Linked DNA regions of Homo sapiens. The protein of the gene in region 1 purifies or fractionates together with the protein of each later gene. This does not show direct contact. Each region holds a gene or a part of one and is shown on either strand. Other genes may lie near its edges. The genes, in order: AFM, GBP1 and POTEI.

Region 1 (10,687 bases):
GATATGTTCTATTCATTGGTATGAGTTCTGTCCAAGTAATACAGAGTAAGACTAATTCATGCCCACTCCAAATCTCCTCCTTTTCAGGCAACTGTGTCTTTTGCAGAAGCCATTCTTCTCCCTCCTTTCCTGCTTTGATCAATGTGTGTTCTGGCATGGCAGTAGAGAAAGAGTTGTATGGCAGTTTCCATTGCCATGATAGAAACTTTATGATGGCGGCAAGTGCCTGGGTCCCTGATTTTGTATCTGCTTCTCTTAGCACAGTATTGAATACATAGCAGAATCCAGTATAAAATTAAGTTCACTAATTATGCTTTGTTTCACTTCCGTTTTCTAAATCTACTATCTATTGTTTAAGTAAAGCAATACTTCCTTCTTATCCTCATTGGTAAATGAGAGTGCTTGGAGAAAGTGGTTAGAGGACAAAATAACTTTATGACTTACACACCTGTTATCTGCTGGCCAATGTATTAAGTACTTTATATAGTAATTTAATTCTTTTCTCTAAAGCCTTTGTGACTTGATATTAGCCCATCCTACACAAAGAAATTGATGTCATAGAGTATAAGGAACTTATCTGGGGCTGTACAGTAAATTAATGGCAGTAGGGATATAAAGCACCCGCTGCCATCCCTTTCTCACTCTGCACCTTCAGCTTAGAGTGAGTGCCTGGACCCTGCACGTATGACATTGAAACGTGATTGCATGTTTACTGTCCCTCTCCCCTGCTTAGCAAGAAACAGGAACCAATTCTGTCTCATATTTGTATCCACAATGTCTGACACACAATAGAATTCTAATAAATACTTGTTGAATAAATCAATGAGAATCCCAAAGACTATGCTCTAAACACTCTACCAAAATAACTCTATGAATAGCCTCATGTATTATCTATTAAATGGCCAACATCTTCAAATGTAAACATTGGCATACAAAAATCTTCAAAGTTTAGAGAACCACCAGGAAAGCCAGGCCATGAGTCCATAACCAGTCTTCATTTCCTGAGTTACTTCTCCTTTGATATCAATATCAAGCATTTATATCACTAACACAACAGCAATTCTGGCTTGGAATGGAGGGCGAGAACCACCACTGTCATTGTTGCCTTGTACAATCATTCCACCTCTCTGAATAACAGATTTTGTAAGGCATGCAACATGGCCATACCTAAGAGGTAGTGTATGCAATGGTTAACAATATTGTTCCACAAAGCTGGAGGCATCACATTACCCAACTTCAAACTTCAAACCAAATACCGTGGGAGCTAAACATTGAGTACATGGACATAAAGACAGGAACGATAGATACTGGGGACTACTACAGAGGGGTGGGAGGGAGAGGGGTGTGGGTTGAAAAACTAACTACTGGGTACTATGCTCGCTACTTGGGTGATGAGATCCATACACCAAACCACAGCACCATGCAATATACACATGTAACAAACCTGTACATGAACCCCCTATATCTAAAATAAAAGTTGAAATTATAAAATATATAATATATATAAAATTCTGGAAGTATATATTATATTATATATTATATATTTTATAATATGTTACAGTAATGTAATATATTATACAGTATTATATATAATATATAACATTATTATTACATAATATATAATATATATGTTATATACATTTATATATAGTTCCAGAATTAGAGAACCTAAATTCAAACCCTGGTTCTGCCAATTACTAGTGATATCACACTGAACACATTAGTTTATCTCCCCAAGCCTTAGATTTCCTGTTTGTAAAATGTAAATGAAAATAATACCTACCCATAGAGTTATTAGATTAAATGAAATAATGCATGAAAACTAGCTAGAACAATGTTTGGTACATTGAAAACATTCAATGTCATCTACTAGTAGTAGCAGTAGTTGTAGCAGTAAAGTTTCATGCCCAAAATTCTCAGTTTTCTTTCTGGTAGTTTCAAGGACATCTTAGAGCACTGTGCCTACCCAGCTGCTATTCAGACTTCCATCTTTCATGGATAGGGAATGGTGCAGCCATGTGAGCAAAAGATGCTGATGGAATGAATGAATCATGATTGCTTGATTTTGTGATTAGGTTGATTTATGACATCGGTCTGAAAAATAACTTTACAAAATGTTGTGTTTATTGCTTGCTGCAATGTATTATTTCAGGTGACAGTTACAGAAAAATCCTTTTATTTTGTTCTCAGGAAATGCGATTCATCACCACACAGATAGGAAGCCTTCCCTGGAAAGAGAAGATAGTATTTCATGCATCAAAAAAACATGAAATGTTGAAAGTTGGGTGATAGAAAGTCGAGTATTTGAAAAAACTATTAGTGGTAACCGTGTTTTGTCCCTTGTAAATCCCAACCTACCTTCTGTTGAGGTCCAGGTCTCTCTTCACTGACACTGTATATAACTCCTATATCTACGCAACATTTTGTTGCTAAAGTTTGTGTTTCAGGTCTTACATAAGCCACAAAGGGGAGGGCATCTTTATATATCTTTTTGAAATCACAAACATATCGCTTTTTGTTCACGTAAATGCTGTAGCAATACCCTTGGTTTGTATGTGAATCATATCTCAGTAAAGCAATATTCTTAAAAGATTATTGGAAAGGGTCACTGAGGTCTGTCTGCCCACCTCAGTCCCCAGGGAGTTACCCCTCTTCTTTCTGTCAACATTCAGAGGTTCCATCATCCCTCCTTTGTGGTCCAGACAGCTGAATACATGAGTAGGAAGGCAGAGGACTTAAGCGCCTCTTGGTTATCTAGAAAACTGATTGAACAGCAAGAGAAGGGCAAGCACAAATGCAGCATTGCCACCCCATAAGGAGTGGCTGATACCCAGAAAAACACAGGAACAATATCGGGGTCTGTTAGCTACATGTGCATTTCTTGTTCATGTAGGATGAACCAGAAATAGACAAAGAAGCATGAGGGAGAAAAGGCAAGGAGATCAGATAAGCCACAAATACATTTGACATTTGAATGAGGCAGAGGGTATTACCTTTGGTGCTTTTTTCTTTACATATCTCCAGCAGCTGGCTTCAGTTGCCAATTTTTGGACTCTGAGGTGAGGGATGGAAATAAAAACACATAGGAAGAAAAATTTAAGACACTAGTTTAAATTTAGATAAGCATGTTTTCCTGAATTTTGAAGAAAATTAAATCATTCCCACGTTGTACAGGGAAACAGTAAACATTCTTTCTTCTAGTGAAAAAATAGACACCGAAAGGCTCTTTACAACTGCCAAAAATTCATCCTTTCCTTCACATGGCCCTAATGTACACACTCACTCAGATAAATGCTAGATATTGATTAATATCCTTTACTTAAAATTAGGTATATTTTTTAAAAACTAGTAATATGTACCCCAGAAAAATTTCCACAAACTAAGTGTCACTCAGAAAAGTAGATGGCTCACAACCAGAATGAATCACGTGTGTGAGTTTGTCTGCCTGTGAGTTTACATGAATTGTGAGTTTGGAGTGGAGTGAGTGTTCCTAGAAAAGAAACAGTGAGAAATAAAGTTGGAAAACAGTGAACAGGCATTTCCATGGAGCCATCCATTGGGGCTAACATTCACAGGTTGCTGAGGTTCAAACCAGAGCAAATGGCTACAGACTACCTTCACTGGAGCGAGGGCAAGCAAGGGACATTTCTCCCTTTTCTCCCTGACTACCCTTACCCTCCACTCCCTCATTATTCTCAACTGCAGGATGTTAGCACAAGGCCTGGGAAAGTGAGACAGCCACTCCTGAAAGACTTCACTTTCTAATACCCTTCCTGCTCTGCTCCATTTGGAGCTGTTTATGATTTCCTTTGCAAGTCGCTTTGACTCTGTCTTATTAAGATAATGAGTGGTTCAAAACCAAAAAATAAGAACCAAAGGTGTAATTCAGGGATAATTATTACCATCCTCATTTAAAGATAGTTAATTGCCATTCAGTTTAAGTTGCATGACTTACAAGACTGCTGGGGTTACAACCCAGGTCTTCCGACAGCTTTTTCTGTACTAAGGAGACACTGCTCAAAGTGTATTTCAGAGATGTCTACATATTAGTTGTGTAGCAATTGTGCTCTCAAATGTAGTCCTGGTAGACACTGCAGAGAGGAAGCAGTGTCCTGCAGGGTTCTGTTTTATTTTATTTGACCAGGAAAACCAGTTGAATTTCAGTAGAAAAGAAATAAAACTACCTCTTCATTAAAGCAGACTTCAGGACTCTCTGCTTTGCAGCACTTATCCACTACATTTGCGAAATTTGTAAACAAAGACTGCAGCTCTTCATCTGTGAGTTCATGCTTCAGCTTCACTAAGTTGACAAGAAACCTGTGGCCAAAAGATGTCAAATAAAATTAATTAACGCTTTCTTTCTGAAGCGTCTCTACTCCAAAATGCTTGTTACAGAATCACGTCTTGAGTCTCAGCTTGGGTGTGGGTAAAGAGTTGAAATATACCACTTTGAATGGGTCTTCTGAAACTTTCCTATTAAATTTAGAGAATGGTTTCCACAGTAACATTCTTTGAAGGGTTTTGTCACACACAAAATTATACAAAAAGTATTAACAAGGAGGAAGAGAGGGATGACGAGAAGTTGGCCAAGGAGTACAAAAATACAATTAGATAGCAGTAATAAGTTCTAGTATTCAGTAGTATAGTAGGAAAATTAAAGTTAACAGTAATTTATTGTATATTTCAAAATAGCTAGAAGAGGAGAATTGTAATGTTCCCAGTACAAAGAAAAGATAAATGTTTTAGATGATGGACATTCCAATTACCCTGACTTGATCATTACACATTTATGCAGTTATCAAAATATCACATGTACCCCCAAAATATGTACAACTATTATATGTCAATTAAAAATGATGTCAAAGGAGCAATTAAAAAAATAAGCTATCACAATTAAGTGTGACAACAGCCATAGACAATAATGATTTCCTTATTTTCTAGTAAATTCTAGAATTCCAGTATTCTAGTAACTTATAGAATTCCAAACTTCAGGGGGCAACCCATTGATGTCTTAAAAGTACATTTTAGAGTACATTTTTAGAGTAATTATTTTAAGTAATAAAATTTTAATGCACCAAAGAGGAAAATGTAATAAGTCCCGTATGCCCATCCTTCGATCTAAGAATTAACAAAAATTTGCATTTTCTCGCTTTCATTTTTAAAATGAAAACAGGATAGTTAAAAAGAATAAAATAGACCAGACTAGAATAGGATGGACTGGAAAATACAAGAGTGTATTGCACTGTGAATCTATGAATATTGCACATAATAAGAGTATTATTCTATTTAAAAATGAAAACATATATTAGGCCTTTATTATGCCAAGTATTATGGTATACATGACTACGTCTGATCTTTCCAGAAAATTCATGTCCAAAACAACCTCCATTTCCTCATATTTGGTAGCTGAATGTTGTCTCCACTACACATTAGGCAGACTCTGTCTAAATCCAAAAAACTAGGTCTAATTTCCTGGCATTTTAAAGCATTTATTGAGAAAATGAAAGTAAACTTCCTGGCCCTTTAGGCCTCTCCTTTGTAAACACTAAATGATATTCTCCGGGCATTCCCTCAAGGAAATGAAATTCATTATCAGCCTGCCTATGAGCCTTTTTGCTGGCTGCTGTAAACTTTCTAAAGGTAATGTTAGACTTGGACATTCCAAGTCTCTTTCAAATGAAAAGACAAGCTAGATATAAACAATGGCAAAAAAAAAATATGCACTTGTATTTTTCCATATAGAAGAGACTGGACAATTTGGTGGAAGGAACAGGATTGTGATATCAAAAAGACATATCCACTAGATAAACCTTCTCACTAATACATGGTGTGTCTTCAAACCAAAGAAAAAGAAGAATGGAAGAGATTATTTGTACCTGTCTGTCTTCCTCTGAAGCTCCTCATTCTGAGATTGACACATGTCTGCGTGAAAGGTAAATAAATCTTGAGAGAAAGGTGGAGGCACATATGTTTTATCAGCTTTCAAACTCTCAAAGCAGGGCCTTCTGAAGGCAAAGTTTGTTTTACAGCAGTGGTCCACAGCAGGGTTGATAGTTCGATTTTCATTTACTCCACATAACTCTCCAAAAACTAAATCTGCCTGTACCAACAAGAGTTGCAACTGAGATACGATCTTAAAACTTGAATGGAATTTCTAAAAATATGGTTAGATGAATACTTAGATCTTTCTAAGATCACTGTTAACCTCACTCATAAAACACATGCACTCATGACATATCCCTATATACAAGTAAAACTAGAAGCTGGGGTCCTAAATGGCATTATGACCAAAATCCAAGCCATAAGAATTTAGATGCCTACAAATTAATTTCTTGGTGGCATATAAACAAACTTTCAATTGCAAACAGACAGCTGCAAAAAGCCAACTGAAAGGGGCGATCAAACACTGTGGTACAGGGGTTTCTTCCCCTCCTGGCATCTGCCTCAAGGTACTCTCCACCCCAGCCCTAAAGAGATGTATTCAATGCCTGATTGCTGGATGAAGCAATGGGGCCAAGAGGAAGAATCTGTAACCTTACTTAAAATTATAAAGTTTCCTGTATCATTTTGAAACAATATTATGATTCCTAAATCATTTGTCCTAACAAATCCCTTCTAATACAATGAAGAAATAAGAAAGATAATTTGAAGTACTCTCCAAAAATATTGAAGACATTCTGTTTTACTTCTTAGGGTTTTCACAAAGTGAGCCAAAAGGAAAACTTGACAATTTTTGCTTAACAATATTAAAACAGTGAAGAAAGGAATATGGATAATCACGGTAAATCAATGAGTGCAAATATTCTTTTTTTTAAAAAAAAAAAAAAAGAGTAGTCTGGTACACAGGCCATGCTCACCAAATTATCAACACAGGCAAACTCTTCACTTAGCGTACAGCAAGTAGTGAAAGCTGTCACCATTTTCTCGCCAAGAGACACCAGTTCTTCAGTGGAGAGTTGGGGAGCTATCTTCGTGAGCCTGATGAGGTAACTGAAAGAACATTTGTCTGTTTGGTTCTGAATGAAAGCAGATACCCATTTTCCCTTGAATTACTGCTGAAGCCCAGACCCTTCAAGGCTAGCGACAACCAATATAGGTGCAACATGAACCTTAGCTCTCTCATAAAGTAGAGAAATATGTCTTTACTTCCTGTTTTCCTGCACCCTGCTTCCTATATCTATTTTAGCTTCCTTTCTAATTTCACGGTTGTCTCAGAAGCTCTTAGATTTGCCTCCCCGTGTTATCTTTAAGTATAGGAGCTCCTTGACAGCAAATACATTGGCTAGTATCTAAAATCTTGCTTAAAATAATTTACATCATTAGAAAATATTTTAAAGAAAGAATTTAATCAATATATGTTGTAAAAGGATAATCTGAGATGAAGAAAACTAAGATTTTTAATGAACTAAGTTTGAATTGTCAGCTAACAGCCAAATTGCAGAAATAGGAAAGTCAGATATTTTTAAACTGTGTTTTATTTTGATTTAAAGATGTTTAGTTTCAATAAATAATACATTAGCATGAGGCCAGGTGCAGTGGCTCACACCTGTAATCCCAGCAAAGTCCGAAGGGTTGGATTGCTTGAGCTCAGAAGTTCAAGACCAGCCTGTGCAACATGGCAAAACGCCATCTCTACCAAAAAATACAAACATCAGCCAGGGATGGTGGCTCACGTCTGTAGCCCTAGCTACTTGAGAGGCTGACGTGGGAGGATCACTGGAGCCTGTGAGGCAGAGATTGCAGTGAGCTGAGATCACACCACTGCACTCCAGCCTGGGTGACAGAGAGACCCTGTCTCAAAAATATGTAGTAATGATAATAATAACAATAATAATAATGATAATAAAATACATTGACATAATAATTGAAAAAAACCCAAACTGCATATTATTCACAAATGCTCACAAGAGCACTAAAAAGCTAAATATTAAAGTGTTAAACACATCCTGAGTTATTTCTATAAACTCAGGTAAGATAGCCGTAAGGCAAGGCAAGGCAAACTATCTCTTCCCCAAAGAAACTGTAATGACCTGAAATATGCAGTGTCCCACTTTGAAATGGGTGAGGATGCAGGGATTCTAGATTGGCAGTGAGAAAGCCAATGTCAAACAGAAACCAAAGCATTAGAGAATCAATGTCTCCAGAATCCTGTATTTCTTTTATTTTTAGCTTCATTTCTGATAAAAGATTAATGTGACAGTTCAATAGGCATTCTTGACTTTAAAAAAAAATTCTTCCAAGAGTTTATGAATCGGCCATAACTGAAAAACTTGACAGCTAACTTTTTTACGCTTCGAGGGATTATGTATTCAATTCTAGTGGCAAGTGTTAGCCCACTTGTGCAAACAACATACTGGTATTTCAAACCATCCTTCCCCAAATTCTGGAAATGTTTACATTCTTGTTGTACCATCTTGAGGCTTTTCTCAGTTGTCTCATTGAATTTGTCTTCCTGAAAATAAGAATAATCATGGTTACAAACATTTTATCTAAAATTTAACCATAAGCTTTACATCAATGTGTAGAATAGCATTTCTTATTTCTATGGTATTTTCAAATTCTCATTATTACACTAAATTCAGGGCACTTTTTACAAGCACGTGCAAGAACTTAATTTTTTAATTATGTATATAAAAATATATTTCTTGCTAAATTTAAAAGTCCAAATTTTTTTATTATCACCTTGTACATATTTCAGAGCCTTCCAAATTACAAAACAGAATTTAAATTGTATGTTGAAAATAATAACATTCAGTTGTCACTTTGAAGTGGCAAGAGCAGTTGTTATCTCCATTTTTAAGTAAAGGCAACTGGCCTTGTGAAATTAAGTGACTTACCCAGAATACCCCAGCTAGTAAGTGTTGTTACAGAACATTTTAAATCATGTTGCTCTTTTTGATTTTTTCATTGTTTAGATTTGGAACTTAAAACCTCCAACAGTTTTCTTCAAATATTTGATGGACTATCTCTCATGTGGCATAAAATTGGACATCTTCTGAGTGGCCACCAGACAGAGAACTAAACACCAGTGGATAGCTATTGTGGAGCAAATTGTATCTCCATGAAAAGAGAGAATTTTCTAGCGCTATGATTAATTTAAGGATCAGAAACAGACTACCTCATTAGGGACAGTTACAGAGCAGGGATCCAAGTCTTATTCCATTGCTCAAATTTGAGTGGGTATAAACTGGTGTTTGTGGCAAGTGAAAAAAAATGTTTTGCTAAAGCAAAAGTAGCACATATCAAAGGAAGGAGAAATAAATCAAAAAATGTCAAATTATTAATTTCTCTAATATGTATTCAGAAATACATATGAATTTATATGAAAAACACTAATTTCAACAGGAAAATGGGTAGTACACATGAACAGATTTTTCACAGAAAATGTGTAAATAGCTAAAATCATATGGAAAAAATTTAACAATTTAAAAATCAAATAAAGGTGTTTTAAAAACACAAACACTGTTATTTACATATAAATCTAGCAAAGTTAATTTCCATGTGCAATGTTGGTAAAAGTGACATTGAAATGAGCATTTCCAAGCACTGTTGTGGGGCCAGACACCAGAAACAACTTTCTTGACAGTAATTCAACAATTTGTGTTAAATGTTTTTTAAAGTTCATATATTTTGATCCAATAATTTTCCTTCTGATAATCCATCCTAAGAAAAAAGCCATAAATATTAATAAAGATAAATGGAAGGAGACGTTCATCTCAGGGTCACTTACAAAGTGAAAAACACCCTAAGCAAACATCCAAAATGTCAAACACACAGTAGGAAATCAGTTAAATAAATTAAATAATTATGATGGGATACCATCATTTAAAAAGAAGTTTATTTTCAAGTCTGTTTAATGACGTAAAAAGTTTTCTATACTAGACACAAGAAGAGTCAAGGACTAGCTTCCCTAGAGGGAACACAGCCCTTCTGACACCTGATGTTAGCCCCATGAGACTCATTTCAGGCTTCTGGCCTCTTGTGAGAGAATAAATTTTTGTTGGTTTAAGCCGCTCCCTTTGTGGCAACAGCAGGAAACCAAGGAAGCACAATTTATAACAACAACAACAAAAAAGTTTTCTATGATACCAAATAAAAAAACAGGTCCAAACATTTTCTAGGAATTATGCCAATCTTATTTTTAAAATACACGTATATATACGTATATGTACTGAAGAGTTGAACACAAATGTTAATTATAGCTATTTCCCAGTGGGAGAATCAGAAAAGGGTTCTTTGTAACCTTTGTTGCTTTCCTAATAATCAACAACAATCAATCATTACTTTTGAAACCATAAAGAATCCAATATGGCTTAATAAAATACAGAATATTTTCCTAGTCATCTACAGCAATCATTGCTTTTGAAATCATGTAATATCCAATACGGCTTAATAAAATACAGAATACATAAAGAAAAATGTAAATTTAAAATGTTTAATGGGAAGACTTTTTTGAATTAACACATTGGATTAGTAGTCCAAAACATTATGCATCAGCCAAACTGATGACATTGGCCTTCCCAATAATCTTCTTAGGCTGAATCTACAGTGGACTCAGATTAGCCAATCACATTTTCTACCCCCAGACTGCAGCAAAACTCTGATATCAATTTTTAAGTGTTTTCTAGTTGTTCTTTTTTGATTTTCTGAACCTACAACAATGGAACCTACCGCGTAACGGTAACAA
Region 2 (12,319 bases), on another chromosome or scaffold:
TGTTGATGTTATTGCTTTCTGTTAGTTTTTTTCTCATGGTTAGGTCTCTCTTTTGCAAGTCTGTTGCAGTTTGCTGGAGGTCCACTCCAGACCCTGTTTGCCTGGTATCACCGGCAGAGGCTGCACAACAGCAAGGATTGCTGCCTGCTCCTTCCTCCAAAAGTTATGTCCCAGGGGGGCACCGGCCTGATGACAGCTGGAACTCTCTGGTATGAGGTGTCGCTGTTGGGAGGTCTCTCCTAGTCAGGGACCCACTTGAGAAGGCAGTCTGTTCCTTAGCAGAGCTCGAGCGTTGTGCTGGGAGAATCCTCCTTGTCAGGATCCACTGCTCTCTTCAGAGCCAGCGGGCAGGAAAGTTTAAATCTGCTGAAGCTGTGCCCAAAGCCGCCCCTTGCCCCAGGTGCTCTGTCCCAGTGGGATGGGAGTTTTTTTTATCTATAAGCCCCTGACTGGGGCTACTGCCTTTCTTTCAGAGATGCTCTGCCCAGTGAGGAGGAATCTAGAGAGGCAGTCTGGCCATAGCTGCTTTGCAGTGCTGTGTTGAGTTCCATCCAGTCCAAACTTCCCAGCCTCCTTAGCAGGAGAAAAATCGCCTACTCAAAGCCTCACTAATGGTGGACGCCCGTCTCCCAACTAGACTCCATTGTCCCAGGTCAACTTCAGACTGCTGTGCTGGCAGTGAGAATTTCAAGCCAGTGGTTCTTAGCTTGCTGGGCTGTGTGGGAGTGGGACCCATTGAGCAAGACCACTTGGCTCCCTGGCTTCAGCCTCCTTTCCAGGGGAGTGAACAGTTCTGTCTCGCTGGGGTTCCAGGTGCCACTAGGGTACAAAAAAAAAAATCCTACAGCTAGCTCGGTGTCTCCCCAAACAGCTGCCCAGTTTTGTGCTTGAAACCCAGGGTCCTGGTGGTGTAGGCACAGGAGGGAATATCCTGGTCTGTGGATTGCAAAAACCGTGGGAAAAGCATAGTATCTGGGCTGAATAGCACAGTCCTTCAGGGCTCCCCTTGGCTGAGAGAGGGAGGACCCTGGCTCCTTGCACTTCCCAGGTAAGTCAACGCCCCCACCCTGCTTCTCCATGGGCTGTACCCACTGCCTAATCAGTCCCAATGAGATGAACAGGGTACCTCAGTTGGAAATGCAGAAATCATCTTCTGTGTTGGTCTCACTGGGAGCTACAGACCAGAGCTGTTCCTATTCGGTCATTCTGCCAGATCTAAGACATGTTGAGCATTTTTTATATACTTGTTAGCCATTTGTATGTCTTCTTTTGAGAAACGTCTATTCATATATTTTGCCCATTTTTTAAATAAGATTGTTTGTTTGTTTTTGAGTTGAGACTCTTGTATATTCTGAATATTAGTCCTTTGTCAGTTGAATAGCTTGCAAATACATTATCCCATTACATAAGATGACTCTCCATTCTGTTGGTTTTTTCCTTTGCTGCACAAAAACCTTTTAGTTTAACAGTCTCATTTGTCTATTTTTGCTTTTGTTGAGTGTGCTATTGAAGTTTTACCCATCAAATTGTTGCCTGGACTGATGTCCACAAGTGTTTTCCCTATGTTTTTCTGTGATAGTTTTAAAGCTGGGGGTCTTACATTTAAATATTTAATCCATTTTGAATTGATTTTTCATACAGCACATTAATATCCACATTTCCCAGCATCAATTATGAACATACATTCCCCAATGTATATTGCTGGCCTTTGTGTCAAAAATAAGGTGACTTTAAATATGTAAATTTATTTCTGAATTCTCTATTCTGTTCCATTGGTCTACGTGTCTGTTTTTTACTGACAGGTCATTTTTTATAAAATTAAAACTCAACTCATTTCACATAAGTGACATGAAAGGAAATTCTTCACGGATAAAAGTTTGAAATCTTCCAATGTGCAATCTTGGGCTACATAAAATGTGCAATCTTGGGTGACATGAAAGGAAATTCTTCATGGATAAAAGTTTGAAATCTTCCAATGTGCAATCTTGGGCTACATATTTCAGTGTTCAGTGCTCCATTCTTCCACTCCTCTCCAGGCCTTTGCTTTTATGCTTTGAGTGCAAGTCAATCTTACCCACTAGAGTAAGTCCAGTTTAGGGCAGTGCCTGTGTCTAATTCATCTTCATACACTTCTCAGCACCTAGTACAGTGCTGTGCATGCAGTGTATTTGCTCTCTATACACACACATGCATATGGTTGTTTTTCTAGCTTGCAGGTCTTGCATCCATTTGATATGAGACTCAGTGACCCCAGCTGAATCACTGAATCCCTCTTGCTATGCACTCTACGGGCAGCTGCATAGAGCTCTTTGTGTGAAAATAAGCTTACTATCAAAACATTCCACACCTGAAATTCAGTCTGTTCATTGGATGCTGATATTGAGACTGCTAGGCATATATACAATAATTATTGCATCATGTAATAATACTAAACTGTGAATTAATTTGATCTGTGACCATCTACTAGAAGAATTCCATAGCCTGCAAACCAAATGAACCGAAAGTGAGGAAATGATGCTTCCTCATCCCCACCATCTAAATGAAAAATTCCCTAAATATTTTTTCCCAGCTGTCTGACATAAAAACAAAAAGCACAAAAACTGTCCCCAACACATTGCACTAAACAGAAAAGAGTGGTTTTCTTAATATCTAGTCTATTTCCCAGAAATGAAGAGCTTGTCCCTGCTTTCACTTTCAATTTGGGGCAGTTTTGGTAGTTTGAGTCTTTCTACGAATTTGTCCATTATGTCTAATTTAATTTGTTGGCATACAGTTGTTGATAGCATTACCTTAAAATCTTTTTTATTTTTGTAAGGTCAGAAGTAATGTCCCCTTTTTCATTCTTGATTTTGGTAATTTGAGTCTCCTGTTCTTCTGCTGGGTTTTTTGTTTTGTTTTGGCCAGTCTAACAAAACAGGTTTTTTTTGCCAATTTTGTTGATCTCTTCTAAGAACAGCTTTTGATTTTATTGATTTTCTCTACTTTTGTCTTATATTCTCTATCTCATTAATTTCTACTCTTTATTTCCAAAATTCTTTATTATTTTCTTCTTTCTGCTAGCTTTGGGTTTAGTTTGCTCTTCATTCACCAGCGTCTTAAGGTAAAAGATTAGGTTATTGATTTGAGTTCTAATATTTTCTTACTAATTTCTCTAGAGTGTATCATATATGTAATTTATGAGAATGTATATCACATTTATGCTAAATCAATTCCAATGAGAAAATTTTTACTCTTATAAATCTAAAAATACTAGTTTTCTCACTTTTTTGATACTATTAAATACGTTAAATATATGTTCAAACAATATAATACATTGTTATAATTAATTCACATAATTTTATGTCTTTTAAAGAAGCTGAAGGGGAAGGTATAAATGTATAGAGCTTGTTATGTTAACTTACAGTTTCAGGTTCTCTTAATGTATTCCTGGGGGTTCAAGTTAACATCTGCTGTCATTTCTTTATTCCAATGCAGCTTCGCTCCTACTGTCCTCTCTTGTCCTGTTCTTAAGTATATCACGTTTCTATATGTTATGAGCCTGAAACACAATTATATACATATTGCTTTATACAACTGTCTTTTAAAAATTAGTTAAAAAGAGAAATAAGAAGAAATATGCATTTATACAGTCTTTTATAACTATATAATTATCTTACTGGTGCTCTTTGTTTGTCCATGTGGATGTGTATTGCCATCTGGAGTCATCTGCTTTCTGCCTGAAAACCTTCTTTTATTAATAGTATTTCTTGTAAAGTCAGTCATCTAGTAGTAAATTTTATTTATGTTTCCAGGCTTGAATCTCCCCCCGGCCCACACTCTTTTTCAAATAAAGTCAGTTTCTGTGGGAAAAGCTTTGGAGCTCTGATTTTATGGACTGCCTCTCTCTCTCTGGAAAATATCTCTGAGCCATGACCCCTTCGAATGGGCAGAGGTGGTAGCTTCTGCTCTTTGCCAGTTGCCCCTCCCAACACGGAAAAACCACCCTACAAGTGAACCAGAGTGAGGGTGACAGGCCAGGGTTTCTCATTCTGCCATTCCTGAGCTAAAGCTGAAATCTTCTTGCAAAAATTATAACTGAGAATATTATTATGTGAAAGAGATCTGACCTGACTCTATCTTACTTCTAACCTCCAAGCTGTCCTTGTTCATCCCTGAGCATAGGCCAAACTGACATTGGAAGGAATTTAGTCAGCCTTTTCCCAAAATAAAACCCCTTCTTCCCTGAGAACTAGACTAACTTTGCAAGACTAACAAATCAGCCATGAGATTAGAAACTGTGGTCTGAGAGTCATGCAGCTAGAGGCCACAAGATTCCAGACCTCTCCAATTGCCATCCAGGTCAATAAACTGGCTCATCTGGTCTTGTGGCCCCCAGCCAGGAACCAACTCATGCAAGAGGACAACTTTGATGCCCTGTGATTTCATCCCTAACCCAGCCAATCAGCACTCCCCACTCCCCAACCTCCTACCCACCAAATTATCCTCAGAAACCCCCATACCCACATTATCAGGGAGAATCTTTTGAGTAATAATAAAACTTGAGAATCCCATACAGCCAGCTCTGCGTGAATTAAACGCTTTCTCTACTGCAATTCCCCTGTCTTGATAAATCAGCTCTACCTAGGCAACAGGCAAGGAGAACCTGTTGGGCAGTTATGGAGCCTCTGCTCTATGAGTGGGACTGGGAAAGTTTGGGAGCCCTTGACTTCTGGTCACACTCACCAGAAATTTAGTCTTTACAACTCACTATTGGAGGGGATGAAAAATTCTGGTGGACTGGCACTCCTGATAGGATATGTCATCCCTGCTCAGAATGTGAGAGAAGAGGCAGCCCCACCTTCTTTCCATAGCCCCCAGTAGTGGACCTTTTGTCAACCCGAACTGAAAATGAGGATGAAGAGGCCCAAGGGTCAAGTGCCACAGATTCTTGTTATTCTTACCGGAGTTATAGGAGCTCTCCTTGAATAGATGTTTCATTGTGATGTATGCTTCCTGTGGGGAAAAGCAAGAGAGATCAGATTGTCACTGTGTCTGTGTAGAAAGAAGTAGACATGGGAGACTCCATTTTGTTATGTACTAAGAAAAATTCTTCTGCCTTGAGATTCTGTGACCTTACCCCCAACCCCGTGCTCTCTGAAACATGTGCTGTGTCAAACTCAGGGTTAAATGGATTAAGGGCGGTGCAAGATGTGCTTTGTTAAACAGATGCTTGAAGGCAGCACGCTCCTTAAGAGTCATCACCACTCCCTAATCTCAAGTACCCAGGGACACAAAAACTGTGGAAGGCCTCAGGGACCTCTGCCTAGGAAAGCCAGGTATTGTCCAAGGTTTCCCCCCATGTGATAGTCTGAAATATGGCCTTGTGGGAAGGGAAAGACCTGACCGTCCCCCAGCCCGACACCCGTAAAGGGTCTGTGCTGAGGAGGATTAGTATAAGAGGAAGGCATGCCTCTTGCAGTTGAGACAAGAGGAAGGCATCTGTCTCCTGCCCGTCCCTGGGCAATGGAATGTCTCGGTATAAAACCCGATTGTATGTTCCATCTACTGAGATAGGGAAAAACCACCTTAAGGCTGGAGGTGGGACATGCGGGCAGCAATACTGCTTTGTAAAGCATTGAGATGTTTATGTGTATGCGTATCTAAAAGCACAGCACTTAATCCTTTACCTTGTCTATGATGCAAAGACCTTTGTTCACGTGTTTGTCTGCTGACCCTCTCCCCACAATTGTCTTGTGACCCTGACACATCCCCCTCTCGGAGAAACACCCACGAATGATCAATAAATACTAAGGGAACTCAGAGGCTGGCGGGATCCTCCATATGCTGAACGCTGGTTCCCCGGCTCCCCTTATTTCTTTCTCTCTACTTTGTCTCTGTGTCTTTTTCTTTCCTAAGTCTCTCGTTCCACCTTACGAGAAACACCCACAGGTGTGGAGGGGCAACCCACCCCTACACTTCCAGGACAATCTGCAGAGATTTTAAATGGTTCAAATAATTTTGACAGATGTAAGAATGTTATGCTCTAAAAAGTAAAAGACTTTAAAGTAGTTTTAATAATAAAGGAGCTACAGTGTTAAGGAAGGATGATAGAAAGAGTTTAGATAAAATTATTTTACAAAGTATGAATGAGAAAAGACACTGTATCTGCAATTTATATACATCTAATATATAATTTTAATGTGTAAGTGAGAAATGCTTGGCCAGGCCTGGTGGCTCACACTTGTAATCCCAGCACTTTGGGAGGCCAAGGTGGGTGGATCATCTGAGGTCGGGAGTTCGAGACCAGCCTGACCACCATGGAGAAACCCCATCTCTACTAAAAATACAAAATTAGCCAGGATAGTGGTACATGCCTGTAGTCCCAGCTACTTGGGAGGCTGAGGCAGGAGAATTGATTGAACCCAGGAGGCGGAGGTTGCAGTGAGCCGAGATCGTGCCACTGCACTCCAGCCTGGGCAACAAGAGTGAAACTCCATCTCAAAAAAAAAAAAAAAAAAAAAGAAAAAGAAAAAGAAAAAAAAAGAAATGCTCACACAAGGTTGGGTCTGGTGGCTCATGCCTATAATCCCAGCAATTTGGGAGGCCGAGGCAGGGGGATCATTTGAAGGAAGGAGTTCAAGACCAACCTAAGCAACAAAGTGAAACCACATCACTATAAATATATTTTTAAATGAAATGTTCACTCAGGCTTTTTACTATTTTATTTGCTTTTGCTGTAAAATAGAGATAATGCCACTTATTCTGTATGCTAGAAGTCATTACTGAATTAGACATAAAACACAAACAGCTCTTAGAAAACAATCTATAAAAATAAAATCACACTATAATAAATTTAAAAATAAAAAACCTATAAATAAAATATTTCTACAATTTTTCACTTAGTAAATAAGCAGCATAGTGAAGTGGTTCAAGAAGAGGGTATGGGATCATGAGTGCTTGGGTTCAGATTAGTTACAGTGTTATGATTTTAGACAACTAATAAAGTCTTTCTGTGCTCAGTTTCTATAAAACCATGAGGAAATATTATGAGTTTTCAGTTGTGCGATTCATGTAAAGCCATCAGTACTGAGCCTAGAACATGAGTACAACACATGGAGCCCCCTCCTGGCTGTGTGCTGGGCATTAAGTGCCAGGGGTTAGGTGTTCATGAGTGTGTTAAACATGTCCTTTCCTTATGTACTGCACCTCTCAAAGAATAGGCAGCTCCATTGAGAGTGTGTCTATTATTTTAGGAAATTGTAGCTGAAAATTAACATGATGCCTCCTCATTCTAGGTTTCTCAAATTGACTCAATCCATGAGACATGTATCATTGTATTCAAAACCTAATGGGCATTTTGTTAGACAACAAATGGTCTCTAAGATTTCCAACAACAACAAAAAAAATTTGAAGCTTCTGGTTGAGAAATCTTTAAACCCTCCCACTGGCACACTCCACTAATTCCATTTATGGTAGTGGAGTCAGTGATTTGAACGAAGTACTTTCAGTTTCATATTACTCTAAATCCATTACAAATCTGCTTAGCTTCTAAATATTTCATCAATGAGGAAATCCCAGCCCTACAACTTCGGAACAGTGAAATATTAGTCCAGGGATCCAGTGAGAGACACAGAAGTGCTAGAAGCCAGTGCTCGTGAACTAAGGAGAAAAAGAACAGGTAAGAACTTTTACTACTTCTCATCAAGCAGCTTTCTCTCTAGCTCCAAAGGATCTCAGCTCAGTGATATGGAACCTATAAGGTTGTGGCAGGGATGGGAAGGAATTTATAAAGGTCAGTTCATTTTCTTAAACATCATCAGAACCAAATTAGGCTGCAGATGAGCCTGAAGTGGGACGCAGGTCAGATGAAATCCTGGTGTTATCAGGGACAGCATGGCCTTAAGTGCCACTACAGTGCTTGTGTTGAATTAGGCACCAGTAGACAGGGGCTAAACTGAGCATTTGAAATGTACTAGGATAGTCTTTCTCTTTGTTGACATTATCTATGTTGACTAGGGATATGATTACATTTCCATCGTCAGTGATGGACTGAATCCTGCTTCTATGCAGCTAAGAAATGGAAGAGTTACAAACGGGTTCTTTTCATGGAAGGAAAGAACAGCAAATGAGAAGCAGAGTAAGCAGCCCACTGACACGGTTAAAGACAAAGAAAAAACTGAAACTCAGCCTGAAAGATGAAGATTCATGAAAACAGTATACTTTTTATTACACTTGTGAACTTTGTTTCAGAATGGATTACTTTCTTTAGAAATAGTCCAGACTCACTAATTTCCTAGTGCCCACTGATCCCTGTCCCTTAGAAGTGAAATTCAACCCCACTGCTTCACTGAAGTGCTTCCAATTTTGTCTTCTTTTAGTAGAGAGCAGGGCCAAAAGTGTTTCCTCTTTAATTCTCCTGTAATGCATCTCTACAGAAAATATCTTTGCTTACTTTAACCTCTCCATGCACTCAGACTACTTTGATCCTGCCTTCTGCAAAGTCTTCCCCTGAATGCCTTGTCAAGACACTAGCCTCATTCATCACCTCTGGTCTGACAGCTCCTCTCTCTCTCTCTCTCTCTCTCTCTCTCTCTCTCACACACACACACACACACACACACACACACACACACACACATTCCCAGCCCCTTATCCTCCTCTCCACTCCTACTATTCCTCCTCTTTCTATTTCTCTTTCTCCTACCCTACCAAATGGAAAACAGAACAAAACAGAAATCCTAAAGCTGTATCGCTGGAAATATATTTTATTTGAACAACTTCCTAGGTAGCTCTCTTTATCTGCCTCTTGATCTTTTAATCCTTATTATCTGGAGGAAACATTCAGTATTTGCAATTTTGCATTCATACCCTCAGTGACTTAGAAGCTATCTTATCGTGACTCTAATGAAGCTTAAGTTTCAGGGCCCTTCTCTTGGACATGACCCTTAGGAGCCCTTGGAAGGTTCCCTAGCCATGTGTTTCACATGGTTGTATAGTTTTATAAAATTTGCAAAAGTATGTTACATTGTTACCACTTCCAGAATGGCAATGTGAGAAGCTTTGTCAATCCTCATTGCAGTGAAATAAGCATAATCATTTGAAGATGGAGGAAGGAACACATTTAAAAATCTTTGGAAATTTTTCTAAGGGTAAACATCAAACTATGAATACTGATTCACTGTGTTGGATGTTTATTCACTGTGAGAATTAATAAGTGAATCAATATTGAATTCCTTACATACAGCCAGGATGCAAATAAATCCTCTAAATCCTATTCTATCTTCCATTAATTGACTAGTGAAAATATCTAATAAGAATCCAAAAAGAAAGTTTTCCACAATAAACTAAATGAAATATTTGGGTCGTGAGAGTAGTTGAGTGTTGATAAGTCACTGTCATGCTAACATTTTTCATAATGAGCTACTTTGACAATACTTCCATAACTTTCTCAAATGATACAGATTTTGCCTCATCTCTTTTGCTGTCACACACAAAACTTTTGGCCATACTGGGGAATCTTATGATTCTCCCTTATAATTGCAAAACACTAGAAATTCTCATGTATTTCACCTCTTCTCTTGCAGACAAGGGAACAGCCTGGACATGGCATCAGAGATCCACATGACAGGCCCAATGTGCCTCATTGAGAACACTAATGGGCGACTGATGGCGAATCCAGAAGCTCTGAAGATCCTTTCTGCCATTACACAGCCTATGGTGGTGGTGGCAATTGTGGGCCTCTACCGCACAGGCAAATCCTACCTGATGAACAAGCTGGCTGGAAAGAAAAAGGGTGAGTGGCATGAGCAAAGCTCTGCCAAGTCCCTTCTGTCCATCTACACAGTCAGCCTCCATTATGAAGATGTGAGGAGAGAAAGAGATGAGGATGAATACTGAAAGCTAACTTTCCATTCACAGTCGGGCTCCTTATCTTCACGCTGTTCTAGGGGATAAGAATCAATTCATTAATTATTCCCATGATACCTTAGTTTCCATTTCAAAAGCACAAATTATGCCTCTCCTAAAAGGAGTAAGACAGTAATAAAAATAATTAATGTACATAATAATAACTATAATAAACTATACAATGTTTATTACAATTTTTATGCAATAACAGAGTTCACAGTGATCTTTAAGGTTGAAAAAATGTTTCAATCTGTAGTGGATATTATTTTTTGTTGTTGTAAAAAAAATAAAATTTAACCTCGTAACCATTTTTAAGTGTACAGCTCTGTAGCATTAATGAAATTCACATTGTTATACAGCTGTCACCTCCATCCATATCCAGAAATCTTTCATCTTGCCTAACAGAAACTGTATTAACTAAACAAAAGCTCCACATAAACCCATTGCCTGCCATCATTCTACATTCTATCTCTATGAATTTGACTACTACAGAAACCTTATATAAGTGGAATCATTCAATATTTGTCCTTTTATGACTGGCTTATTTCAATTCATATGTCTTCAAGGTTCATCAGTGTGTTAGCATGTGTCAAAACTCTTCCTTTTTAAGGCTTAGTAATTGTACGTGTATACTAATTTGTTTATCTCTTCATCTGTCAATGGACACTTGGATTTCTTCCACCTTTTGTCTATTATAAATAATGCTAATAGGAACATGGGTGTCTGAATATCTGTTCAAGTCCCTGCTTTCACTTCTTTTGGGAATATACCCAGAAGGGGAATTGCTGGCTCATGCAGTCATTGCATGTTAACTTTTTTTAAGAAATCACTATACCATTTTCCACAGTGACTGTACCGTTTTACATTCTCAACAGAAATGCACAAGGGTTCTAATTTCTCTACATCCTCACCAACATTTTTTATTTTCAGTGGTTTTTTTTTTTTATAGTGGCCATACGAATGGAAGTTAAGTAGTATCTCGTTGTGGTTTTGATTTTGATTTCCGTAATGACTAGTGATGTTGAGCATCTTTTCACGTGCTTATTGGCCACTTGTATATCTTCTTTGGGAGAATGTCTATTCAAGTCCATTGTTCATTTATTAATCTGGTTGTTTATTTCTGTTGCTTTGTAAATTTTTTTATATTTTCTAGATATCAATCCCTTATCATATACATGTTTAGAAACCATTTTCTTACATTCCGTGTGTTGCCTTTTTTAACTCTGTTGATAGTGTCCGTTAATACACAAAAGTTTTAAATTTTGCTGAAGTCCCACTAATCTATTTTTTCTTTTATTGTCTATAGTTTTGGTTTCTTATTCAAAAAATAATTTCCAAATCCAATATTATAAAACTTTTACCCTTTATTTTCTTCTACAACTTTTATAGTTTCAACTCTAATGTTTGGTTCTTTGATCCATTTTGAGTTCATATTTGTAAGTTATAAGGTAATAGCCCAACTTTTTAAGGAGATATATCATTTCCTCAACATCATTTGTTAAAGAGACTCTCCTTTCTTCATTAAATGATCTTGACACCCATACTGGAAATCATTTGACCATATATATCAGAGTTTATTCATGGGCTGTCTTTTCTATTCTATTGGTTTATATGTCAGTCTTTATACCAGTACCACACATGGTTTTGTAATACGTTTCACAACTCAGAAACTGTGAGACTCCAACTTTGCTCTTCCTTTTTATTTTTATAATTAGGGGATCTCTGGAAATTTCATATGAAATTTATGGTGGATTTTTCTATTTATACAAAGTAATTGGAATGTTGGTAGGGATTATATCAAACCTGTACATCACTTTGGGTAGTAGTGACATCTTAAGAATATTAAGTCTTCCAATCCATAAACACAGGATGTCTTTCTAATAACTTATGTCATCTATAATTTCTTTAAAGGGTGTTTGAAGTTTTCACTCTACAAGTCTTCCACCTGCTTGGTTAAGCTGATTCCTAAGTAGTTTATTCTTTTGATGCTGTTAAATTGGATTGTTTCCAAAATTTCCTTTTCTATTTTTTACACTAGCAACTGATTTCTCCATATTGACTTTGCATGCTGCAACTTTGATGAATTGTTTTAATAGTTCTAATAGTTTTTTGTGGGATAGTTAATGTTTTCTACAAATTAGATACTATCATCAGCAGACAGAGATAATTTTACTTTTTCATTACCAATTAGGATGCCTCCTTTATGCTTCTCTTGTCTAATTACTCTGGATAGGACTTGCAGTGTTCTGTGGAATGCAATTGACAAAAGTAGGCATCCTTTTCTTGTTCATGATGTTATAGGAAAAGCTATGACGTTTCATCATTAAATGTGAAGTTAGCTGTGGGTTTTTAATACATGGCATTTATTATGTTGAGGTGCTGTCTTTCTATTTCTACTTTGTTGATTATTTTTATCATGAAAGCCTCCTGAATG
Region 3 (10,304 bases), on another chromosome or scaffold:
CCTCTATGTGGCTCCATTTATAGCACAGTTATTCACTGATGCTTGTGCATGCTGGGCAAGGCCAAGCTGGCTCAAAGAGCAACCAGCCACATCTGTAAGGGTCCACTTGGAGCAGATGGACCAGCCACCAACCTCACCCACTCAAGGAAGTAGGGAATGTGTGTTTGTACCATGCATTTCACTACAAGTACATTTCCCCTGAGGTTGGTGGCCTACATTTTCTTCTAGATTTTTTGCTTTTAGGTCTTACATTTAACTCTTTTATCCTTCTTAAGTTAATTTTTGTATAAAGTGTAAGGAAGTGGCCCAGTTTCAGTTTGCTGCATATGGCTAGACAGTTTTCCTAACACCATTTATTAAATAGGCAATCCTTTCCCCAGTGCTTACCTTTGTCAGTTTTGTCAAAGATGTGGTGGTTTTACATGTGTGGTGCCATTTCTGTGGCCTCTGTTCTATTCCATTGGTCTATATATCTGGTTTGGTACCAGTACCATGCTGTTTCCGTTACTGTGGCCTTGTAGAATAGTTTGAAGTCAGGTACTGTGATGCCTCCAGCTTTGTTCTTTTTGCTTAGGATTGTCTTGGCTATGTAGACTCTTTTTTGGTTCCATATGAAATTTAAAGTAGTTTTTCTAATTTTGTGAAGAAAGTCAATGGTAGCTTGATGGGGATAGCACTGAATCTATAAATCACTTTGGGTGGTATGGCACTCAGGCACAGAAATGTCCTTGTGTTAGGCAATACCATTCAGGACATAGGCATGGGCAGAGACTTCATCACTACAACACCAAAAGCAATGGCAACAAAAGCCAAAATTGACAAATGGAACCTAATTAAGCTAAAGAGTGTCTGCAGAGCAAAAGAAACTATCATCAGAGTGAACAGGCAACCCACAGAATGGGAGAAAATTTTTGCAATCTATCCATCTGGCAAACGGCTAATATGCAGAATCTACAAAGAACTTAAACAAATTTACAAGAAAAAAAACAACCCCATCAAAAAATGGGCAAAACATATGAACAGACACTTCCCAAATAAGACATTTATGCAGCTAAAGAACATGTGAAGCAAACCACATCATCACTGGTCATTAGAGAAACGGAAATCAAAACCACAATGAGATACAATCTCACACCACTTAGAATGGCCAACATTAAAAGATGAGGAAACAACAGATGTTGGAGAGGACGTGGAGAAATAGGAACGCTTTTACACTCTTGGTGGTAGTATAAATTAGTTCATCCATTGTGGAAGACAGTGTGACAATTCCTCAAGGATCTACAACTAGAAATACATTTAACCCAGCAATCCCATTACTGGGTATATACTGAAAAAATAATAAATCATTCTAATATAAAGACACATGCACACGTATGTTTACTGCGGCACAGTTCACAACAGCAAACACTTGGAAGCAACCCAAACGCCCATCAATGATAGACTGGATAATGTGGCATATATACACTATGGAATGCTATGCACCCATAAAAAAGGATGAGTTCATGTCCTTTGCAGGGACATGGATGAAGCTGGAAATCATCATTCTCAGCAAACAAACACAAGAACAGAAAACCAAACACCTCATGTTCTCACTCGTAGGTGGGAACTGAACAATGAGAACACGTGGACACAGAAGGGTAACATAACACACCGAGAACTGTTGTGGGGTGGGGGAGCAGGGAGGGATAGCATTAGGAGATATACCTCATGTTAAATGACGAGTTAATGGGTGCAGCACACCAACATGGCACATGTATACATATGTAACAAACCTGCACATTGTGCACATGTACCCTAAAACTTAAAGTATAATAATAAAATTTAAAAATTAAAAAAAAGTTTTAAAAAATTTCCAACTGGATTTTTTTTTGTTTTTTGTGGTTTTTTTTTTTGTTGTTTTTTTGTTTTGTTTTGTTTTTGTTTTTGTTTTGCAGCCCCAGGAGTTTTAGCCAATTCAGATGCCTTGCTCCCCACAATTTGGAACATTCCTTTGGATTTGACCAAGTCAGGAAGAGATGGGAGAAAAGTGAAACAACAATAAAACCCCAAACATAAACAAAAAGAGTTAAGCAAAACAAACAAATGCACAATTCATATGATTAACTGAGTGTTCTAATGGTAAGGAGGAATTAAAAGCAGCTGGTGGGTAATCTTAAATTTTAGTCATTAAGGAAAAATTTTAAGACAAAACTCTAATTCAGCTACTTACCTGGAAATAAGGCTCAGACTGGGTGATCATTCTCTGCCATCTTAGAAGCTGGAAAAACTTACACTCACCTTCCCTGTCAGAAGCAAGCTGAAACTCAGGAAAGGAGGTGCCTGCTCTCCTTTGTCAATGGAAGCAGGAAAACTTGCCTTCCTTGTTGGAAATGAGTAAAACTTCAAAAAAGGAGTTGTACAGCAAAATCAACCTTACATCTCAACCAAATTTTCGGAGATCAGGGACTCTGTGAAGGGGAGAAGCTCCACAACCTCAGCAAATTATCCTATTGGTTTGGGCAATACAAATAGCCCAGGTTGGTATCAAGCAATAATGAGATTTATCAAAGGTCAGGACCACCTTTGTAATGTCCTTCTCTTTTTTTATCTTTATTGGTAGAGTCTGTTTTGTCAGAAACTGGGAGTGCAACACCTTTTTTCTGTTTTCCATTTGCTTGAAATATTTTTCTCCATTCCTTTATTTTGAGCCTATGTATGGCACTGCACGTGAGATGGGTTGCTTGAAGACGGCATACTCCAGTGGGTCTTGGTTCTTTACCCAGCTTGCCCCGTGTCTTTCAATGGGAGCATTTAGCCCATTTACATTTAAGGTTAGTAATGGTATGTGTGGATTTTATCCTGTCGTCATGCTGTCAGCTGGTTATTTTGCAGACTTACATATGTGCTTGCTTTTTAGCATCATTGGACTGTGTACTTCAGTGTGTTTTTGTAGTAGCAGGTGATGATCTTTTCTTTCCATATTTAGTGCTTCCTTCAGGAGCTCTCGTAAGGTAGATCTGGTGATACCAAATTCCCTCAGCACTTGCTTGTCTGAAAAGGATCTTATTTCTCCTTCACTTATGATGCTTAATTTTGCTGGACATGAAATTCTGGGCTGAAATTTCTTTTCTTTAATGGCAGTTGATGTGGGTTGGGGTGTGTGCTGCACTCCTGTGTGCTCTCAGGGCAAGTAAAGCAAAACCCACCCGTGTAAACACACACAGCAAAGTGATTTAGGAAGTTTCCAAATAAAGGGCTGCCGTATGGAGAGGCAATGTGCAGGCTGGTGCGTGGCTCTAGGGGCCACCTTGCTGCAGCTCTCCACTGATATGGTACAGTCCACTAGCACGGAAGCTATGGTGTGGGCATCTAAGAGTGCCCCGTAAGCAGGTGTGGCCAGGCTGGGGCCATGGGAGAGGCGAGCAGACTAAGGAGTGCTGAGATCAGACCAGCCCCATCTCAAGTGCAAGATTGCCCAGCCTCCAGAGATCAGGTCTCAGAGGAGAACTCTCTCAAAAGTGAACCCCCAGCACAGCACAGCCGCTCTACACAAACGTGGCTAGACTTCTTTTATTAAGCAAGTCTCCTTTTTTTAAAAAGGGAACTCTCGGACCTGATCTCTGCTGGGCAATCTTGCATATAAGATGTGGCTGGTATGACCTCAGTATTCCTAAAGTGCTGGGATAAAGTGTCTCACAAGGGCAAGTGGACCCTAGAGAGACAGCCATCCCTGACCTCTGGGCTCCACATCACCTGACTTGCTGCTCCACCACTTTGCTTGTTTCCTGGGTGCTCCATCCCAGAGACATGTGAGTTAGCAATCACTTAGTGTAATCAGCCCAGGATGGAGGGTCTGTGCTGTGGGCCCAAGCCAGGGTTCCCTGTCTGGTGATGAGTAGTGGAGGGTGTGTGGTACCCGTGGGAGATGGACTGGCTTGTTCTTTGGGTCAACTGCAGCTTATTGGAGGTGTTGATAGGGCACTTAGGGTCTTTGCTCCCTTGCATCTTCTGAGGGCAGCAAGGGCAGTTCCACTGCAGAGGCAGTGGCAGAAAGGATTTCATTTGCTCCTGGAAGCTCTGTCCCAGGAACTGCAGAGTTGCTACTGGCTTGATAGCTCCAGTGGTGGGCTGGCTAGAGACCCAGGCCAGGAGGATCTGCCCATCAAGTAGAGAGCCTGGCCACTTTTCTGTAGGGCTGCTGTGGTATGCTGGGGGTCCCCTCCAGTCCCTAATTGCCTTGTATTTTCCAGGGAAGATGATAGTCTGCCCCTTCCTCTGGAAGCTCTGTACCACTGAGGTACGAACCTGTTGCCAATCTGAACACACCTATAAGATGTGGCTGGAGGCAAGTTGAGAAGTCTTACCTAGTCAGGACGAACAAGAACAGGGACTTGCTTCAAAAAGAAAAGTCTGGCCACGTTTTTATAGAGCAGCTGTGCTGTGCTGGGGGTTCACTTCAGCCCCTGGTCCGCCTCAGACACTCTGAAGCCCTAAGGCTGAAATGCCTGGGTCGCCCCAACAGCAAAGATGACAATCTGGTCCTCCCCCTGGGAGCTCTGACTCAGGGAGGCCTGAGACCTCTGTCGGCCAGAGAACAGCAGTCAAGGTAGCCAGAGACCCTGGTTGAAAGACTTCACCCACTGACTAGAAATGTGGTCAGGGACTGACGTAAACAAGAGTCTGGCCACGTTTTGGTAGCGTGGCTGTGCTGTGCTGAGGTACCTCTTCCACCCCTTGTCAGCTTGGGCTCTCCAAAGCCCGCAGGCCAGAATGGCTAGTCACCGAAAGAGCAAAGGTGGGGGCCTGCCCCTCTCCGGGAGCTCTGTCCCAGGAACATTTCACATTTCCATTGGCCAAGGAATGCTGGTGGGGGTAGCTGGAGGCCCCAGTTGGGAGGTCCTGTCCAGTGAGATGGAACAGGATCAGGGGCCTGCTTACAGAAGCAGTCTGGCCATGATTTGGTAAAGCAGCTATGCTGTGCTGTGGGATCTCTTCTGTCCCTCGTCGGTTTGTACTCTCCAAAGCCCGCAGGCTGGAATGACTAAGTTGCCTGAACGGGAAAGATGGCGGCCTGCCCCGTCTTTTCTCTCAGAGTTTTATCTTGTTTCATGGAGCTTAATTTTTAGCCTGTTGATTTTACTGTCTACGTTAGACTTGTTGAGAAAGAATCTGTTCTCTTTTAGGTGAGATAAATGAGAATTCATTGTCTTCTGTAAATAAACCTGTTCATGTCTTGTTCTCTGGAAAGAAGTCTCTTTCAGCTATCTGACTTTGGTCACAATCATGTAGAGCAGCAGCCAGTCTACAATGACGTAATTGAATTTCCATTTCCGGTGTTTCCTCGTTGTGTCTTACATTGTCCAGTTCAGAACTGAGCATTTTATTCTCAGTTGTCAACATGCTAAGCTGTCCACTGTACTGAAATACTGTGCTTCCTCAATTTTTTTTAAGGTGTGCACTTTTATCCAACTCTCCTCAAGTCAGAGTACAGGTAAGCCCTGGCTGCCTCCAGCCACTCTCAGGGAGACCAAAAGCCTTCATACACCCCAAGTTGGGGTACAAAAGAGGGGGGCCACGAAGGCTGATCATTCAAAATAAAACAAAATTAAAAAGTATTAAGGCGAAGATTCAAAAAATTTTGCATTATGTAATCTGCACAAAAGCAATGCTATCACCTCCCCTGTGTGAACTAGGGAGAGGACTGGGCCATTCTCCTTAGAGAGAAGTGGGGTGGCTTTTAGCAGGGCAAGGGGCTTCCTGAAACAATGCGTCTCACAATATTTGGAATGACTATTGAAAAGAAGAACAATGTACAATCAAAGTCCTTGGCCACATTGTAGAACTTTGGAGGAAGCTTCCTCCAACCGACTGCTGTCACCTTCACCATTCCGGTTTTTAAATCCTGAGTCAAGCCAATAAAAAACAAAACAAAAAATGAAACAAGAAAACAAATAAAGCCATGCCAATCTCATGTTGTTTTCTGAGAAGTTTGGTTTTGTCAAGAAAGGGTGTAACGCAACTAAGTCAGAGTCCACCTAGAAGCATTTGCGGTGGACAATGGAGGGGCCTGACTCATCATACTCCTGCTTGCTGATCCACATCTGCTGGAAGGTGGACAGCGAGGCCAGGATGGAGCCACCGACCCACACGGAGTACTTGCGCTTGGGAGGAGCAATGATCCTGATCTTCAACATGCTAGGCGCCAGGGCAGCGATCTCCTTCTGCATTCTGTGGGCCATGCCAGGGTACATGGTGGTGCCGCCAGACAGCACTGTGTTGGTGTACAGGTCTTTGCGGATGTCCACATCAGACTTCATGATGGAGTTGAAGGTAGTTTCATGGATGCCACAGGATTCCATGCCCAGGAAGCAAGGCTGGAAGAGCGCCTCGGGGCAGCGGAACCACTCGTTGCCGATGGTGATGACCTGGCCATCGGGCAGCTCGTAGCTCTTCTCTAGGGAGGAGCTGGAGGCCGCCATGGCCATCTCCTGCTCGAAGTCCAGGGCAACATAGCACAGCTTCTCTTTGATGTCACGCACGATTTCCCGCTCGGCCATGGTGGTGAACCTATAGCCACGCTCGGTGAGGATCTTCATGAGGTAGTCAGTCAGTTCCCGCCCAGCCAGGTCTAGGCGCAGGGTGGCATGGGGGAGGGCATTCCCATCATAGATGGGCACAGTGTGGGTGACCCCGTCACCAGAGTCCATCACGATGCCAGTAGTACGGCCAGAGGTGTACAGGGACAGCATGGCCTGGATGGCCACGTACATGGCTGGGGTGTTGAAGGTCTCAAACATGATCTGGGTCATCTTCTCGCGGTTGGCCTTGGGGTTCAGGGGGGCCTCGGTCAGCAGGATGGGGTGCTCCTCAGGGGCCACACGCAGCTCGTTGTAGAAGGTGTGGTGCCAGATCTTCTCCATGTCATCCCAGTTGGTGATGATGCCGTGTTCCATGGGGTACTTCAGGGTCAGGATGCCTCTCTTGCTCTGGGCCTCCTTGCCCACATAGGACTCTTTCTGATGCATGCCCCCCATCATGCCCTGCTGCCTGGGGCGCCCCACGATGGAAGGGAAGACAGCCCGGGGGGCATCGTCGCCCGCAAAGCCGGCCTTGCACATGCCAGAGCCGTTGTCAATGACGAGCACGGCGGTATCATCATCCATGGTGAGCTCATTCAATTGTAGAGCCTTTAAAAGATTATCATTCTTTTTTTTCACACTTTCAATATCCTCCAAATATTTCTTTTTTCTTAGCTGGCTCTGATGTTTCATTGTGTCTAGCTCCAGTCTTAGCATGGCAATTTCTTCCCGCAACGTACTATTTTCATGCAAGAAGTCTTTTTCTTTCTTACAACTAAGAGAAAGCTAAGTAAACAAAGAGAACTTTTAGTTAGCACTCAATAGATTGACATATCATTATTTCTTCTGAAATTCAAAAATAACATGTATTTGTATAATGAAAGAATCCCCATAGTGGATATTTAACTGGAAAAAAATTGGACAAAACTTCAAACCTAATAAGAGTGTAAATTCCTCCAGTGATTTATTTTTCATCGCCTTTAAATAAATATTTAAACTTTTAGGAATCTGCTCCTAAATTCCTAAAAGTTTAAATATTTATTTAAAGACGATGAAAAATAAATCACTAGAGGATTTTTAAGAATCCCAGAATTAAAAAAGCCTTTTTCTGAGTTACAAAAAACCCAGAGGCATAAAATATAAGATTAACAATTTGACTACATTTTTAAGATTAGGTTTACACTCTGATATCTAACCTATCAACCACACCATCCTAAGAGCCTTAGCTATGCATATATTTGGACAGAAGCAATTTCTCAAAGTTCTTAAAGTTCTTTTACTGAAGAACATTTTACCGATATTCTACATTTCTAATATTTCTATACTCAGTTATAAGAATTACATTTATTTATAACTGTCAAATCTAAGCACTGTACCCTTCTACACTGTACACATCTGTATCTAGGCATTCCACTTCTACATATAACACTGAACTCATTTAAGATCGCGATTCTTAAAAGGAGAGGTCAAAAAATATACACAGATGCAGGATTTTCCCCAGGTCTGCTGATGCTACTTCTAGTGATCCTCCACAAAACCACACTTACTTCTGTGGTGTAAATATATAAATACAAAAGAAACCTTTTGTTTCAAAATATGAATGGTAAATAAGATACAACTTATAGAGATTTTCTTAGAAATCATGAGATTATTTGCCATTGCGGTAACTTTTATTTCCTCTTTATAATGTTTGAAACAGTAGTAATGGTGAAATAGGGGAAATATACTGAACTATTTCTCCAGAAACAAAATACTTATCAATAAATTATTACTAAATGTGTATCATGGCATGTCATTGTTTTCAAACCTCTTTACACTGAAATGAGAAACTACTTGGAGCAAACTGTTCCTCTCTGCAAAAGTAAGGATAATGGTATCCACAATGTGGCCTCTGACCCAGCTATACATTTCCTACTTTCTTATCAGTAAAAATAATCAATTGACTTCTCTATTAACATTTTTTAAAAAACTAATGTCCAAAAATGAGAAAATCTGTTTTCAGTAGCAAAACTTATTTCTGATGTGGAAAGATCGTCAATTCTTATGAAAAACATCAAATACTTCTCCTTTGGATTGAGGCCATTGTGCAAGTCACTACTCAACTGTTGCAGGCAAATGAAGGTGAATTAAGAACATGGCTTTATCCTATACGTACGTATATAGATATATGACAAAGGATATATAGAATATATACACACATATATATGACTTAAAAATCCTTTATATTTCCAAAATACAGTTCTTTAAAATATACACACATATAAAAACATTTGAAAATAACTAAAGAAAATACCTCAGAATTCATTTTTTCAACCACTTCTATCTGCTTTTCTTCATGAATCAGAATCTCATCGTGTAATATTCCAGTGTTCTGTTCTTCACAAAATTGCTTCTGAGTATCATTTTGTTCGTCACTAGAAGAAATTTTAATTTTCATGAAATACTGGAGCTGTCCCTAAAATGATGTACAGGGCAAGATGGCGCCATCAGATGTCATTCACACAATGCATATCTGCACATTATTCCAAGACAAGGCAAAGGGGTCTCACATCTGTTAACCAGGTGTCCCCAACCATGCTGGCACCAGGGACTGGTTTTGTGGAAGATAATTTTTCCAGGAACCTGAGGTGGGGGATGGTTCCAGGATGATTCAAGTATATTACATTCATTGTGCACTTTATTTCTATTATTATTAATATATAATGAAATAATTATATCTCACCAAAATGTAGAATCAGAGGGAGCCCTGAGCTTGTTTTCCTGCAACTAGATGGTCCCATTTGGGGGTGACGGAAGATGGTGACAGATCAGAAAGGCATTCGATTCTCATAAGGAGTGAACAACCTATATCCCCCTGCATGAGCAACTTACAACAGGGTTCAGGTCACACTCAGGACAATCTAATGCCACCGCTGATCTGACAGGAGGAGGAGCTCGGGCGGTAATGCGAGCGACAGAGAGTGGCTGTAAACAGATGGAGCTTCACTTGCTCACCTGCCTCGAACCTCCTGCTGTGTGGCCCAGGTCCTAACAGGCCAGGGATTGCTAATGGTCTGTGTCCTGTAACCCATACTCTTTATGTTTATTGTTTGGAAACACTTTCTACTTATATTCTTGATTCCTATGTATTTTATAAACAACTTAGAAATTCCTTTTAGAACAAGACAGGGTATAATATGTTTTTAACATAGGACTTTGAAATAATTTTATCTGTGTATGAGAGAGAGATGTGAAATAAACTCATCGTTAAGCACTTTCCATTTTACTTTTATTTCATGCATATTAAAAATAAAACTGGGAAGTCCTAGGCAGAGCAATTGGGCAAGAGAAATAAAGGGCATCCAAATTGGAAAAGAGGAAGTCAAACTATCTCTTCACCAATGATATTATCCTATACCTAGAAAACCCTAAAGACTCCTACAAAACACTCCTAGATTTGATACATGAATTCAGTAAAGTCTCAGAGGTTACAAAATAAATGAATACCAATCAGTAGCACCACTATACACCAACTACAACCAAGCTGAGAGTTCATATCAACAATCCAATCCCTTTTACAGTGGCTGCAAAAAAGTGTGAAGCACCTAGGAATATACTTAATGAAAAAAGTGAGTGATCTATATAAAGATAACTGGAAAACACCACCAAAGAAAATAACAGATGACACAAACAAATGAAAATACATCCTATGTTCATGGACTGAAAGAACTGATATAGTGAAAATGACCATAGTGCCCAAAGCAGTCT

Evidence for each region.
Region 2: the proteins of AFM (region 1) and GBP1 purify together in Homo sapiens (affinity purification with mass spectrometry; 2 studies listed by BioGRID and IntAct, with this or other methods). This does not show direct contact.
Region 3: the proteins of AFM (region 1) and POTEI purify together in Homo sapiens (affinity purification with mass spectrometry; 2 studies listed by BioGRID and IntAct, with this or other methods). This does not show direct contact.

The regions. Positions count from the first base shown.
Region 1 is NC_000004.12:73,495,417-73,506,103, reverse strand, and holds the end of AFM (afamin precursor), read right to left. Parts: coding exon 10,672-10,687; intron 8,453-10,671; coding exon 8,355-8,452; intron 6,991-8,354; coding exon 6,858-6,990; intron 6,101-6,857; coding exon 5,877-6,100; intron 4,318-5,876; coding exon 4,185-4,317; intron 3,055-4,184; coding exon 3,034-3,054; 3' UTR 2,994-3,033; intron 2,229-2,993; 3' UTR 2,103-2,228; downstream 1-2,102. UniProt on the Homo sapiens protein: Functions as a carrier for hydrophobic molecules in body fluids. Essential for the solubility and activity of lipidated Wnt family members, including WNT1, WNT2B, WNT3, WNT3A, WNT5A, WNT7A, WNT7B, WNT8, WNT9A, WNT9B, WNT10A and WNT10B. Binds vitamin E.
Region 2 is NC_000001.11:89,060,498-89,072,816, reverse strand, and holds the start of GBP1 (guanylate-binding protein 1), read left to right. Parts: upstream 1-7,608; 5' UTR 7,609-7,657; intron 7,658-9,563; 5' UTR 9,564-9,582; coding exon 9,583-9,772; intron 9,773-12,319.
Region 3 is NC_000002.12:130,456,802-130,467,105, forward strand, and holds the end of POTEI (POTE ankyrin domain family member I), read right to left. Parts: intron 8,972-10,304; coding exon 8,851-8,971; intron 7,344-8,850; coding exon 6,015-7,343; 3' UTR 2,654-6,014; downstream 1-2,653.